2 linked regions of the Homo sapiens genome follow. The protein of the gene in region 1 purifies or fractionates together with the protein of each later gene. This does not show direct contact. Each region holds a gene or a part of one and is shown on either strand. Other genes may lie near its edges. The genes, in order: SH2D1A and LRRFIP2.

Evidence for each region.
Region 2: the proteins of SH2D1A (region 1) and LRRFIP2 purify together in Homo sapiens (affinity purification with mass spectrometry; one large-scale study listed by BioGRID and IntAct). This does not show direct contact.

What each region holds. Positions count from the first base shown.
Region 1 is NC_000023.11:124,363,525-124,367,350, forward strand, and holds part of SH2D1A (SH2 domain-containing protein 1A), read left to right. Parts: intron 1-2,236; coding exon 2,237-2,300; intron 2,301-3,826.
Region 2 is NC_000003.12:37,059,563-37,063,388, reverse strand, and holds part of LRRFIP2 (leucine-rich repeat flightless-interacting protein 2), read left to right. Parts: intron 1-3,826. UniProt on the Homo sapiens protein: May function as activator of the canonical Wnt signaling pathway, in association with DVL3, upstream of CTNNB1/beta-catenin.

The sequences.
Region 1 (3,826 bases):
CACAGCACAATGAATTACTTATGTATTTGTGATGACACTGGTATAAACAAACCGACTGTGCTGTCAGCTGTATAATAGTATAGCACAGGCCAGGTGTGATGGCTCGCACCTATAATCCCAGCACTGTGGGAGGCTGAGGTGGGTGGATCACCTGAGGTCAGGAGTTCAAGACCAGCCTGACCAATATGGTGAAATTCTGTCTCTACTAAAAATACAAAAATTAGCCAGCCATGGTGGCATGCACCTGTAGCCTCAGCTACTCGGGAGGCTGAAACAGAATTGCTTGAACCCGGGAGGCGGAGGTTGCAGTGAGCTGAGATTGCACCACTGCACTCCAGCCTGGGCAACAGAGCGAGACTCTATCTCAAAAAAAAAAAAAAAAAAAAAAAAAAGAAAGAAAAAGAAAAAGAAAAAAATGTATAGCACAGACAATTACATACAGTACACAATACTTGATAATGATAACAAATTACTGTGTTACTGGTTTATGTATTTACTGTACTATACATTTTATCATTATTTTAAAATCTACTCCTACTTATATAAAAAAAAGTTAGCTGTAAAACAGCCTCGGGCAGGTCCCTCAGGAGGTATTCCAGAAGGCATTCTGGAATATGAATATCATAGGAGATGACAGCTCCGTGTGTGTGACTGCACCTGAAGATCCTGCAGTGGGATAAGATGTGGAGGTGGAAGACAGTGATACTGATGATCCTGACCCTCTCTGTAGGCCTAGGCTAATGTGCGTATTTGTGTTTTAGTTTTTAACAAAAAAGTTTAAATAGCAAAGAATACATAAAATAAAAATTTTGAAACAGAGAAAAGCTTATGGAATAAGGATATAAAGAAAAACAGTTTTGTACAGCTGTACAATGTGTTTGTGTTTTAAGCGAAGTGTTATAAAAGAGTCAAAAAGTTTAAAAAAATTTACAAGTTTATAAAGTAAAAGAGTTGAAGCTAAGATTAATTTATTATTGAAGCGATACAGTTTTTTTTTTTTGAGACAATCTCGCTCCGTCACCCAGGCTGGAGTGCAGTGGCGTGATCTCGTCTCACTGCAACCTCCGCCTCCTGAGTTCAAGCGATTCTCCTGCCTCAGTGCCTCAGCCTCCCAAGTAGCTGGGACTACAGGTGCGTGCCACCATGCCTGGCTAAGTTTTTGTATTTTTAGTAGAGATGGGGTTTCGTTGTGTTAACCAGGATGGTCTCGATCTCCTGACCTCGTGATCTGGGAAATATAAATATTTTAAAATAAATTTAGTGTAGCCTAAGTTTACAGTGTTCATAACATTCTAGTAGTGTAATGTCCTAGGCCTTCACATTCACTCACCACTCACTCATTGACTCACCCAGAGCAATTTCCAGTCCTGCAAGCTCCATTCATGGTAAGTACTCTCAACAGGTATAGCATTCTTTATCTTTTATACTATATTTTACTGTGCCTTTTCTATGTTTAGATAGGTTTAGATACACAAATACCATTATGTTACAATTGCATACAGTATTCTGTACAGTAACATGCTGTACAGGTTTGTAGCCTGGAGTAATAGGCTATACCACATAGCCTAGGTGGTATACCATATAGGTTTGTGTAAGTACAGTCTATGATGTTTGCACAACAACGAAATCACCTAATGATGCACTTCTCATAATGTATCCCCCTTGGTAAGTGATGCATGACTGTGGCAATATTATATTGCTATACATTATAATAGTAATTTTATAAAAATATAGTTATATTCAATTTATAGTATTATATCCTTATACTATTGCCATTATATTTATAACAAATATTATTAATATTAATAATTATTTATGTGGGCCTGATAGTGTATTATCCCAGTGAAATGTTTTCACCTTAAGTTTCGATATGTACTTAAAAATAAGTCTATTGTTTGTTAAAACTATCTAATAATTCATGGTTTTATCAATTACAACAGGTCCCTGTTGTAGTTTCTTTCTGTCCAAATGGTCTCTCAACTTGACAAATCTTTAGGAGCATGAATTTCCATATTTCAAAAAATGAAAAGATAAAGAAATCTCACTGGAAACTGTGGTTGGGCAGATACAATATGGAGACAAGTTAGATTCACTATGCTTTACTTCCTATGAATGCAATGACACCATATACGTGTGTCCTAGTATATGTGACATTTATATGTAATATTAAGCTCAAATTTAAAGTATCCATTGTTCTTTTGGAATCTTTCAGTAATGGAAGTTTATTCTTTCACAGGTATCACGGTTACATTTATACATACCGAGTGTCCCAGACAGAAACAGGTTCTTGGAGTGCTGAGGTATAGTTGTATTTATTTTTGCTTCTGGGGGTGTCAAGGAGGTATTTGAAATTTAGGCTGGTTTTATAAAAGAGCAAATTATACATTATTAAGTATTCATAAGGTTTAAATCTCTAAAGCTCCAATCCAAAATTGTTCATGGATCATTAAGAAAGCTTTAGAGAATTTTGGTCCCAGTCCTGTTTAGCCATCATTTTGCAGAGTTGTATGACTTTGGGAGAAAGATAAAAAAGTTGAAGAATTATGTCAAACTTTTAGTGACTATGTGAAATCTTAGCATATCAAAAGTAGGTAAAATAATTAAATGAACAATTATTTACCAAATGATACCAATATGAGTATTGGTATCGTGGGAGATTAAAAAACATGATGCTTATTTTCTAAGAGACTACAATATACTTGGGAAGTTATAACTTGAAATTAAACAGTTATGAGTGGAAGAAACTAGGCTTTGTCAACAGGTGAATCTGGGTTCCAGGTCTGGTCTCCCCTCCTCTCTGATAGGTCTATGATCTTGGGCAGGTTACTTGACTTTTCTGTGAGCCAGTTTCTTCATTTGTAAACGGAGCCTAAGAATCCTCCCTTATGCACAAGGCTCAATTTGAAAAGTAAATAAGATAACACACATAAAGAAGCTGTTTGCCACAAGGCCTGGCACACAGTGAGCCCTCAAAAAAGTGAACTCCTGAAAATTGCCACAACTCCTATTAATAACTCAATCTGTGCATTTAAAATTTTCTGAAGTCTAGACTTCAAGAAGTTAAAATAGCTCTCACGTTTACTGATTTATCAGTAAGTTGGAAAGTATAAATTACAGACCACAAATGTTTTGAACCACTGAGATGAATTAGGCCAAGTTTTCAAACACACTTTTGCTGTATTATGTAAGGATCATTAAAACTATAATACTAACTAAAGATAAAGTTATACCATTTCTAATTGAAACTATTTATACCTGTTTATTTAAAAAATTCTCTGTATCACTGCAGAGATGATTGAATAAGAAATTAAACTTTATTATGAAGAAAGTTATGTGTAAAATATACTGACAAACACACACACACACACACACACACACACACACACACACACACACGTTTGTATATTATTTCGCCAGAAATAGCTCTTCTCCCCAGAGAAATACCCTTCAGCTGCTGAAGAATATTATGTAAGGAAAGGATCTTAAATGCTTAGGGTTTAACAACTTTGTTTTTCAACTTGTTTTCCTGCATTTTGAGTATAACATCATATGAGATTGTTACATGCTTGTGATCATGTTAAAGAAGAGAGGGCTTATTGAACACAAATGCCCCCTCATCCTGTTGTCTGATCTGACGTTGTTTATGTAATAATATTGTAATTTTCTGCACCAAGAGAGCAGAAGATTGGCATGACATCCGCAAATAGAAAATAGTTTAAAAAATTCTTTAATTTTTGAAATGCATATTGCATTTTTTTCTATCTACTAAATTTACCTTCTTAGCAGTGCTTTTCTAAGGTGAAAATTAAACTAGTGTATATTCTCA
Region 2 (3,826 bases), on another chromosome or scaffold:
TTGATTGTTCTGCTTCAGGCATTCTATATTGACATCCTTTTATGGAAGATGAGGATTTAGCTGTTTTTCATCCTTTGTCCCTGCCACACACATACTTATTTTCCACTCTTATATCCTCCTAATAAAGGAACAGTGTAATTCCAGCCTGCTTGTGTCATTAGGACCCTCTAAACACTACTCACACAGTGGAGCCAGGTTGCATTCTAGGATCATCTCCCTCAGAACTATTAGTTTCCTCTAAAGTTAATGTTATGGTTTTTCTTTGTATTTGCTTGGTTTTCTATCATCAATTTAGCCACAGAATCTCCAAGAGTAGATTAATCCCACTCAGTATTTTCAGATGCATCTGGTGTTATTTCAGTTCCAGTTTGTTGAATCTTGGTGCATCTGACTTGTCCCTTTCTAAACTAGTGACTTGCCCTCTCGGTACATAGATGTGGTCACCCTTCATTGGCATCTGGAGATTTTCTTTGCATGTGATTTAGGTTGGGTTCCCTTTTTCCGGTGTCTCATGCCTTTCTCCTTATTTATTCTCTTATTTTGGTACATCTTCCAGTAGCTTCCTGAGAAGAGGGTTTGTGGATTGTTAATTTTTCATGACCTTGCAGGCCTGAAGATGTCTTCATTCTACCCTCTCACTTGATTAAAATAGTTTGGCTGGGTAGAGAATCCTGAGTTGCCATGGTTCTCCTTAAGATTTTTTAAAAGGACATTTCTTCATTGTGCTGTGACTTCGAGCATGGCTGTTGAGTTTTCATGAACATTTTGAGTTCTGATCTTTTCTGATTTGTGATCTATTTTTCTCCTCTTTGTGGAAGCTTGTATCCTATTCTCTTTCTCTCTAGCATTCTGGTGTAATTTGAAGATAGTCATGTGATTTGAAGTTTTCATGTGTGATGCTGGGCCCCTGTCAATTCTAGGAGCTCCCATCCTTTAGTTCTGGGAAAATTTCTTGAATGATTTTGTTACTGATTTTTTTCCCCTCCCATATGCTGTGTTCTCTATTTTGGAACTCCTATTCAGTCATTCAACAAATGTTGAGTGAGATTCTACTATTTAACATGCACTATTCTAGGCACTGGGATATTTCAGTGAATAAATTAGTTTAGAAAAAAAAAATTCCTGCCTGAGAGGCATTCTAGTAGGAAGACATCAGACAATATTATATGATATGTTAGAAGGTTTGTGTGAATGCATTTATTATATGTGTTTCTCTGGCTACTTACAGCAGCATAGGGGCAGGCATGGAGTGGGTAGAGAGCTAGATTTTACTAGGACAGTATTAATGGGGCAGGAGAGGTGAGGGAGTATGTAAGAAAATGATTATAATGATGGACCTTGAAATTAAACTGGATGAAGAGGATTCGGGAGATATTCAGGAACACATCAAGGTATAGTAGAAAGAAGATGTAATCTGTAGATTAGTGGTACCAGTGTGGTTGAAGGGTTGTTGGAATTCGGGTCTAGAGAGAATGACCTGGAAAGATGAGGAATAGTGGTTAGAGAGAGGATACATGGAACTAAATTGTGTAGGGATTACAATTGTCTAATGATGAGATCTGGTATATGACTGTGGGAGTGAGTAGCTGAGGGCAAGAAGGGATAGATAGCAAGATCCTTGGAAGGGAGGTGGGTTAGTCCATTTTTTGCTTCGCTATAAAGGAATACCTGAGGCTGGGTAATTTATAAAGAAAAGATGTTTGACTGGGCACAGCAGCTCATGCCTGTAATCCCAGCACTTTTGGAGGCTGAGGCAGGTGGTTGAGGTCAGGAGTTGAGACCAGCCTGGCCAACATGGTGAAACCCCAACTCTACTAAAAATATACAAAAATTAGCCGGGCATGGTGGTGGGTGCCTGTAGTCCCAGCTACTTGGGAAGCTGAGGCAGGAGGGAGGTGGAGGCTGCAGTGAGCCAAGATTGCGCCACTGCACTCCAGCCTTGGGTGGCAGAGTGAGACTTTGTCTCAAAAAAAAAAAAAAGGAAAAAAGAAAAAGAAAAAGAAAAGAGGTTTAAACTGGCTCATGGTTCTGCAAGCTGTAGAGGAAGTATGTTGTCAGCATCTGCTCAGCTTCTGAGCTCAGTTTCCTGAGGCCTCAGGCCAGGCTGGTCTTGAACTCCTGACCTTAGGTGATCCACCCACCTCGTCCTCCCAAAGTGCTGGGATTACAGGCATGAGCCACCGCGCCCAGCCAGCCTCAGGAAACTTCTCATCACGGCGGAAGGTGAAGGGGCAGCAGGCACGTCATATCTCGAGCGGAAGCCAGAGAGAGTGGGGAGGTAACATACACTCTTAAACAACCAGATCTTGTGTGAACTACCAGAGCGAGAACTCACTCATCACCAAGGGAATGGTGCAAAGCTATTCATGAGGGATCTGCCCCATGACCCAGATACCTCCTGCCAGGCCCCACCTTCAGCACTGGGGAATACATTTCAACATGAGATTTGGAGGGGACAGACATCCAAACCGTAAGAGGAGATATACCAGAAATTGAGAGATCATTTGTAAGGGAGATCCTCTACTTAGATGTACATTGAAATTGCCAAAAATTAAGACAGGAATAGTCTAGAGGGAGTGCAAGTTGGGAGCTATTTAATAAATGGTGATGAAGGAATGGGATTTTGGCAATGATAAGTAGTTAGTGTATATAATTTGAAGAGACGAGATTAAGACCTGGGACTTTTAGGGAAGATGGAGGGAAAATACCAGCAAGGAAAGCAAGAGGACACCTATTCCATTTCTAGATTCAGTGGTAGGAAGCTGTGGAAGTACAAAAAAAAAAAGGGCCGGGCATGGTGGCTCATGTCTGTAATCCCAGCACTTGGGGAGGCCAAGGTGGGTGGATGACTTGAGGTCAGGAGTTCAAGACCAGCCTGGCCAACATGACGAAACCCCATCTACTAAAAATACAAAAATTGGACGTGGTGGCATGCACCTGGAATCCCAGCTACTCGGGGGGCTGAGGCAGGAAAATCGCTTGAACCCGGGAGGCGGAGGTTGCAGTGAGCTGAGATCATGCCACTGCACTCCAGTCTGGGCCACAGAGCGAGACCCTGTCTCAAACAAACAAACAAAACAAAACAAAACAAAACAAAAACAGTGTTTGAGAGAGCTGCAGAAGCAGCAGGAGAGGGTTATCAGAGCACGAGGGTAAAGGGGGGATGCTCAGAAAAGACTGAGGACAGAGGGTGTTTGCTGATGATGGACTGATAATTCTAGAGGGCCCAGTGGAAAAGTTTCAGGCATTGGGAAAGGTTAGGAGATGAAGGTTAGTGGTCGTACAGACCCTTGTGAGGAAGACTGCAGAGGAAGGATATGACCCTTTGTGAGATGCACATAAATAGGAATGATGGAGATACTGAGATTTGTCCTGGTTCCCTCAAGGCAGCTAATGATGGTGACCCTGTGTGTTGAAAGGGCAGAGGTGCCTGGGAAGTATAGAGTTAGTCCCAATATAGAGCTTACCCTTTTCCCATTGGGGAGTGGCAAACTTAATCTTAGTGCAGAGGCCTCCCTTTGACCCCTGTTGGTGGAGTTAAGGACAGCTGGGGAAGCCATCTCTATGTATCCAATTATTATTATTATTATTTTTTTTTTTTTTGAGACAGAGTCTCGCTCTGTCACCAGGCTGGAGTGCAGTGATGTGATCTCCACTCACTGCAACCTCCACCTACCAGGTTCAAATGATTCTCCTGCCTCAGCCTCTGGAGTAGTTGGGACTACATGCGCGTGCCACCATGCCCCACTAATTTTTGTAGTTTTAGTAGAGATGGGGTTTCACCATGTTGGCCAGGATGGCCTCGATCTCTTGACCTTGTGATCCG